2 linked regions of the Homo sapiens genome follow. The main gene of each other region encodes a partner of the protein of the gene in region 2 in a complex. Links are inferred from orthologs where the notes say so. Each region holds a gene or a part of one and is shown on either strand. Other genes may lie near its edges.

Region 1 (3,751 bases), on a different chromosome or scaffold from region 2:
ATCCATTTTCAACTCCTAGTCAGTGTGAGCATGTAACTTTATTGTAAACTAATATCTAAGAGGAAAAAAATCAAGCAACTTCCCGAGGTTTTCAGACTTTGCCTTGCAAATTTTGGGGTTGAGAGCACCAGTAGTAAGTGAGGCTTTATGTGGTGCTATGTGTGAGTGGGTCCCTCAGCCACTCCCAGGAGGGCAGTGCTGCTACTCCTCCGAAAGAGTAAAGTTTGGGGAGGGATGTAGCCCTTTGTTCTACATCCCATGTGAGCCTCCCTGGCTGCAATGCTAAGGCTTTTTGCTGCTTAAGAGAACTTTACTGAAGATAGAGGCTTTCATATTTTTAATCATTTTCATATGAAAAATAGTCAATTTGCCATCCTAAAGTCGATTTTACATTCTTTATTTCCAACTGCCACCAACTCCCCAGGATCTAAATTTAGCATCTGTTCTCTTTTTAACTTACCTCTGTGATACCTTTCCTCACCTACCATAAGGGTCATAGTTGACCCTCCCATAACAAAAGACAGGTTAACAAGAGAAAAACATAACAGTTTTATTTAATCAAAGTTTTTTTTATGACACAGGAGTCTTCAGAAGTGAAGCCTCCCAAACTCAGGGAAAACTGTCTATTTTTATGGTTAGGTTTGATGAAGAATGGACGGCTGTGTAGAAATATGATTGGACAAAAAGGGTATGATCTGGCTGGGCATGGTGGCTTATGCCTGTAATCCCAGCACTTTGGGAGGCTGAGGTGGGAGGATTGCTTGAGTCCAGGAGGTTGAGACCAGCTTGGGCAACATAGCAAGACCCAGTCTCTACAAAAAATTTAAAAATTAGCTGGGTGTGGTGGTATGCGCCTGGAGTCCCAGCTACTCAGGAGGCTAGGGCAGGAGGATCACTTTAGCCCAGGAGGTCGAGTCTGCAGTTAGCTGTGATCGTGCCACTGCGCTCTAGCCTGAGCAACAGCGTGTGATCCATCTATAAATAAAAAACAAAACAAAAACAAAAAGAGTATGATCTAATAGTAATGGACTGAGGTGGGAAACCCAGCAAGGTCTGTCTGTCCAGAATTATTCTTGACCTCTGTGTAGCATTCCTTCCTCTCTGTTATAGGGCAGGACCCATTCTGGAATGAGGGTTTTATGATCTGCTATCGGACAAGACAGGTCAGATAATTTCTTTATGGCCAGGAAGTCGAGGCTGCAGTGAGCTGTGTTTGTGGCCTTGCACTCCAGCCTGGGCGACAGAGCAAGACACAGTCTCAGAAAAAAACAAAAAGCAACAACAAAGTGCTCATTATGCTAAAGTGCCATACTTGGGAGTATTATTTTCTGAGCCTCAAAAACCGATTGTCAGTGTTTCAGTATTTTGACTCCATGATCAATTATCTCTTATCCTACAAATTCTCAATAAGCCAGAATAAATTCCTGTGTATTTTCTGTAGCTCTATTGACTACACTTTAATAATAATAGCAAGACCTTTTTCATTGTTTTGCCGCAAGGATTGTAGAAGACTAAATTGGGATGCATTATCTAAAGTACCTGTAAAATAATCCATGTTTAGTAAGATAATGTGAAACTTCAAGAACCTAAGAACCTAAGTAAGGTTCTTAATTAGTTGCAACTAACATGAGCTACCCTCCTAATCTAAATCAACAGCCTGGTCCGACATGAATTAGTTTGAATGCCCATCCACAAGCCTCATCTACTTCCATTTTGGAGATGGCTTCTATTCACTTTTGGACAGTATTATTTTAGGAAAATTATACTATGCACATTTGTTGAATTTCATACAAAAGGATCCAATTTAATTAGAGATATAGTTTTACACTTTAGTCTACTTTTTAAGCTGGGCCGTCCATGCTGTCAAATTTCATAGCTGTCAGATAGACATTGCTTTTGCATAGTTCTCTGCAAGTTGTGACAGTGCCACTGTTTATCTTTTATGCACATAGGATTAAACGTGTGACCTGTGGAAGAGTGCTTGATTTGATGTCAGTTGAATGAGGAAGCCAGTCCCCTTAAATGAGTTAGATACGGGGCAAAATGATTTTTACTTGGAATTGTGTTTAAAATTCATTCTCATTCAGTTCAGTTTGTGTTCCCTTTAGTCTGCTCCTACAGTATGCAAAAGTACGAGCAAGAGGGTTGCTTATAAGCATCCTTGTCTTCTATTTAATTTTATTTTGAACTGCTTCTAGGGTAGTTAATGTTCTTCACTAGATCTTATATTAGCAGGAATGTCCAGACTTGGCACTCCAGGGTATTCCAGATACAGTGGTATTTGGCAGGGGGCTTGTGTTTTTCTTCACTCAAAGAACAACAGGATAGAGTCAGGAGTGCATCGTGAATTAAAACATCACAAGGCTTTGCTTGCATCTTCCCAGTTTCATTATTGTCATGTTCCCTGTTGGCCTGTTCTCCTTATGCCAGTGGTATTCCTTGTGTTATTATCATGCTGGCCTTACAGTTGCCATTCCTTGGTGACTCAAATGGCCATGTTAAAATATCTGGAATGTTCTTATTCTCAGCCAGCAATTTGAAGGGCCAATTGGTCTTATTCTTGGCACTGTTGATCTAGGTCTGGATCTGCTGTGGACTAGCTGTTTATCACTGGAGCAAATATAGGCCTCTCTCCTGGGCTTCAGTCTTACATGTGACTGCCTACCCAGGATCTCCACTTAGATGACCCACAGTAACTTCAGTCTCTACATGACCAAATCTACATGACCATGCCACCCTGCCCCACCCACCCAACTCCCTTCTGTGCACTTCTTGGGCTCCCTAGCTGAGAAAGTGGTACCACCATCTTCCCCCTACCCAGTCCCATCAGGTGGGCCTCCATGTTTTTCTTCTTCCCATCTCTACTGCCACCACCTTAATTCACCTGGACTGTCACGGTAGCAACTAAATGATCTCAATGCCACTCTTGCCCTTCTCCACTTTAGCCTCAGTTCAGCATCCAGAATGCTTTTAAAATGCAAAGCTGGTGTACACTTGTAATCCCAGCACTTTGGGATGCCAAGCCAAGCCAAGGCCCAGAGCCAAGCCCGTGGTGGAAGGATTGTTTGAGCCTAAGAGTTCACGACCAGCTGAGGCAACAAAGTGAGATCCTGTCTCTACAAAAAACAAAAAATTAGCCAGGTGTGGTGCTACATGCCTGTTGTCCCAGCTACTCCATAGGCTGAGGGGAGGATCGCTTCCATCTGGGCAGTTGAGGCTGCAGCGAGCCATGATCACGCCACTGCACTGCAGCCTGGGTGACAGAGTGAGACACTGTCTCAAAAAATAAGATAAATAAAATGCACATCTGATCATGTCACACTTCTGGTTAAAATTCTTCCATGGCTTCCCATTGCGTTTAAGTTAATATCTAAAATCCTTCCAACATGGATTCCAAGGTATTGCCTGTCTGTTCCCTGACTACCAGTCTGGCATCAGTGCATGGCATTGTACCCTTCTACACTGTGCTCTGGCCTCCCTGGCCTTTCAGTTCTTTGTTTGTGCCAAGCCCCTTGCTCCCTTAGGGCCTTCACACTGCCTGGAACATGCCTTTCGCCTAACTCCTACTAATTCCCAATCCTCCAGATCCCAGCTATGGTGCACTTCCTCAGTCCCCCAGACTGTTAGCCTCTCCCATTTATAGCTCTTATCAAAATGGTCGCTAGTTGAGTGATTACTTGATTAATGACTGTCTCTCTCTAGATCATAAGCTACAAGAAGGAAGCGACAGATGCCTATTCTGTTCATTCTA
Region 2 (3,751 bases):
CCATGGGAAATGTTCAAGCAGTGAGAGAGGACTGAGCAGAAAAACGGGGGATTATCAACAGGTCTTGGTAAATAATTAAATACAGTGAAAGAGGGAGGAGTCAAAGATGGACATGGTTTGATCTTGGTGACTGAGAGGACAATGAAATCATTAAAAAGGGCAAAGGTATTTTGAAGATAATATGTTCTAGATGATGGGGAATATAAGGAGGGATCAGTGTCTCTAGAATAAAATTCAAAAATCCATCCTAGGGAAAGCATTCAAGCCCTCTCTTGTCTGGCTGCAACCTACCTTATCAGTATTAATAACTTTGCCTCCGTCTTGCTACCTACCTCTTGTCAGTCGGGACTCTTGATTACATGTGAAAGAAAACCTCTCACTGGTTTAAGCAATAAAACAGATGCAAGAATTTACTGACTGGTTTAACGAAATTTCCAGAGGAATCTAATCTACATTTGTTTCCAGGCCTCAAACATGTCTTTAGGCCAAACCTGTCTTCAAATCTGCTTTTTTTCCGTGTTGCCTTCTTTCTCAGAATTCACGTGTGGAAAGATGGCTCCAGGTCTCCATTCTCCCAGATTTAAACCCATTGGTAAAGACGTAACACCCTTCTTAGGAACCGTAGTTTGCAACCGAGGATTAAACTCAAATATGCCTTCCCCTTGTGTCCTGCTCAGACCATATGGACTGAGAGTGGATAAATGATAGTTCTTCAAAAGAAATTATCAGAATAGGGAATGAATGCTGAACAGGCAAAAATGTCGACCAAAATATCTTCTGCTATATGATGGGGTAAATTAACAAATCATGTTTTCCCACTCCTGAAAGAAAAATCCTTAGGTGCAGGATCAAGGATCTGAATAAGTGCTTCAGTTTGATGTTCTTTTGCCCAGAGCATACAGCAAGAATTGAAAATGTTTACTGAGGTGACTGTTACTTTAAAGGGAGGATTTTACGGCCAGAAAAGTGCATTTTTTGAAAGAAAAAGATGGCTTTTATTTCAAATCCAAAAGATATTCATTAAAACATAGGAATTACTAGGAATTAAGACTGTAAAGATCTCTTTTCCAGTAGAAGCACTGAAATGTGCTTTCTCATGTGGACCAAATGTGCCTTAACGCATCAAGATAAGTAATTTCCCGAAGATAAGTAGTAGTCACACGTTGTTCCAACGAGGAAATCCATGCAAATTAGGGTCCTGGTTTATTTCTGATGCTTCATTCTCCATCTTCCATTACACTGTCACTTGATTTTTAATAAAAGGGCAAGGGAAAAATCTCCAAATGAGCAAATAAATCCCGACCTCCTTTCGCTTCCCTCCTCTGGCCGAGGGCGCATGCCCTGTCTCCCCAGGCCCACCCACCAAGAAGAAGCAACCCAAGCCGCGCTCCCTCAGGAGATGGGAGAAGATGTTACTGGCGGTCCAGGCGCCTTTGCAACTCTTCTCTCCCAGCACCAGGAGAGGAAACACGAATGATGCCACTGGGGGAAAAAGTCTCCTGCCAACACCCGAAAAATCTAAGCTGGCGTCGGCAGTGTTTTGCTTTGGAAGGGAGAGCGGGTTCCTTTTCTGGCCTCTGGATCCCTCATCCGGCAGGAAGCTCTTCTTCCTCCTCCTAGCCCCCGGCATACGGGGGGAAAGCCAAAGAGCCTCCAGGACCTAAGGCTAGCGCTCTGCCGGCCGGCCGCGCCCTCCACCCGACCAGGCCCCGCCTCCCCGGCTTTCTAGTAACCGGCGCCGTTCCCGGCCGGGGCAGGGAACGGTGCGCCTGCAGAGCCAGATTTCGGCCCAAGGGGCGCGGGAGTCTCTTCGGGCGTCCGGGATCCCCTGGCGCGGCTCCGTGCTGCCTAACGGGGCAAGTCGCATGCGCACCGAGCCGCGCTGGGGAAAGGGAGAGTGAGGGGAGGGGCGAGCGCAGAGCCTCCGCCGGCCGTCTGAGCCCGCGGGGTCGCTGACGACGCATGCGCCGGGAGGGGGCGCAATCACGGACTCGGCTTGCGGCTGCCGGTTTAAAAAAGGAAACCCCGGAGAGCGAGAGCGCGAAGGAAATCTGGCCGCCGCCGCCGCGAGCGCTCCCGGTGAGAGGCGCCCGCCCGGTGGGCCCAGGGCCTGCCGAGTGCCGGTTGGCTTCCTTGGCGGCGCATGCGCGCTCCTGGGCTGGTGGAGGAGGGGAAGGGAAGGGAGGGGGAGGAGGAGCTGGCCACAGGAGCGGCGAATTTTTGGGGGGGTGGGTGGGGGGCGCCACTCACAGCCCCAGGTGCTGCTGGAGGTGGGAGCCGCGGCGCCTCCTGGACACAGGCGGGGTAGTGGTTCCGAGTCACCGCAGCGGGAGACCTGGGTGGGGGAGGGAAGAAGCCGGAGCCGCCGCAAGCCACACGGTGAGGGCGCGGGGAAGGGGAGGGAGCGGGGGGCGGCGTGTGTGGGGCCGGGGGGCGGCGGCCAAGGGTGGGGAAGGCGGGAGCTGAAGCCCAAGTTTGGCGTGTCGTTCTAGTGTGTCTTTTCCCGGGACTTCGGGCCGAGGCCCGCCCTGCCTGAGAGGCCCTCTGGGGCAGCTGGGGTTACCTGCGGGGCAGGGGCGGGAGTGGGGTGCACGGCGGGGCCGGGCGGCTTGAGGGCGCCCGGAGCTGCGGCCGATTCCAGCAGCTGGGAGGCGGGGAAAGACGGGGACCGGGTGCCGAGAGAGCTTTCGCTGGGGACCCGCTAGGCCTTGTGACCCACTTTATTCCTGTCACCACTCGGGCACGTTTGGAGCAGCGCCCAATGGGGCGCCGGGGCGGCCAGCTCCTCCGGGGAACCCCCGCCCTCCCGGCGCCCGGCCCGCGTGCCGCAGTCCGCAGTCCGAACGGCCGCCGTTGCCGGCCGCGGGCTGGTTCCGTTAGTGGTGGTGGTTCCGGGGTTCCGTTCCTAGGCAGCGCGCGGCTATTAGCGTCTGACTCCAGCGACCGCGCGCGGGTTCGAGGGTTGGCGGCGAGGCGCTCGGTTTCTCTTCTTCCGTCCACCCGCGCTTCCCGTTCCCCGTCACCGCCGCTGGCGTTTGTAGATTTCTTTCCGCCAGTGAAGCTGGGTTTTCTGGAGTTGGCTCTGGCGCTCTGGCCCCTGGAGTGTAATTTCCTACACGCAGCGCCGCAGAGTTTATATTCTTTGAAAGTGTTTGTAGCTTTGTAGAGGTCCTCTTGTTGATGGTAGGTGAGCCTAATTCTGCAAGATAAAAGCCTAGTCTCTGACCTGGCAGATGAAAGATCAAATCAGATTGTGGTTTCCTGCTATTAGAATGCCGTGCTATTAGACTTTAAGGCTTTTTAGCCTTCTTTAAAAAATAAAAAAATTTTTACAGTGGAAGAAAAGCACAAGAAGTAAACTTTTACAGTCGTTGATTTGACTATAACGCTGATCCCCCCAAATCAAAGGTAATTTCACTTTGAAGATTGCGTTCTGATTTGTAGCTTTAAGCGATTAGAGAAAATTGTGCAATATTCCCCTCTACCTGTTTGAAAATAAACATTCTTAAAAGGATGTAATTTAGATAATGAATTGCTTTCTCTGAAACTTATCCCTTGGGACACCTCAAATCTGATTGGTTTTCAAAGCTTGGGGGAAGGAAATTAATTCCTGTGATAAGTGGTTGGCTGAACAGAATGTCTTGAAAGGTTAGCCTGTAGCATTAGGAGAAATACCTAATGTAAACGACGAGTTAATGGGTGCAGCACACCAGCGTGGCACATTTATACATATGTGACAAACCTGCACGTT

What was found.
Region 1: the proteins of CLOCK (region 2) and CIPC are in contact, whole or in part, in a crystal structure (PDB 5VJI), measured with the Mus musculus proteins. The link is inferred for Homo sapiens from one-to-one orthologs. Residues at the interface, in NP_001276755.1 of Mus musculus: Gln519, Leu526, Lys527, Leu530, Arg533, Ile537, Asn540, Ile541, Arg543, Gln544, Glu547, Leu548, Ile551, Gln554, Leu555, Val558; in XP_006515773.1 of Mus musculus: Asn401, Thr402, Val405, Leu406, Ser409, Leu411, Ile414, Thr415, Thr418, Leu421, Ile422, Asn425, Thr428, Gln429, Leu432, Leu435, Lys436, Thr439, Gln440, Phe442, Ile443, Thr446.

Annotation. Positions count from the first base shown.
Region 1 is NC_000014.9:77,101,107-77,104,857, forward strand, and holds part of CIPC (CLOCK-interacting pacemaker), read left to right. Parts: intron 1-3,751.
Region 2 is NC_000004.12:55,545,110-55,548,860, reverse strand, and holds the start of CLOCK (circadian locomoter output cycles protein kaput), read left to right. Parts: upstream 1-1,951; 5' UTR 1,952-2,079; intron 2,080-2,244; exon of another isoform or gene 2,245-3,408; intron 3,409-3,751. UniProt on the Homo sapiens protein: Transcriptional activator which forms a core component of the circadian clock.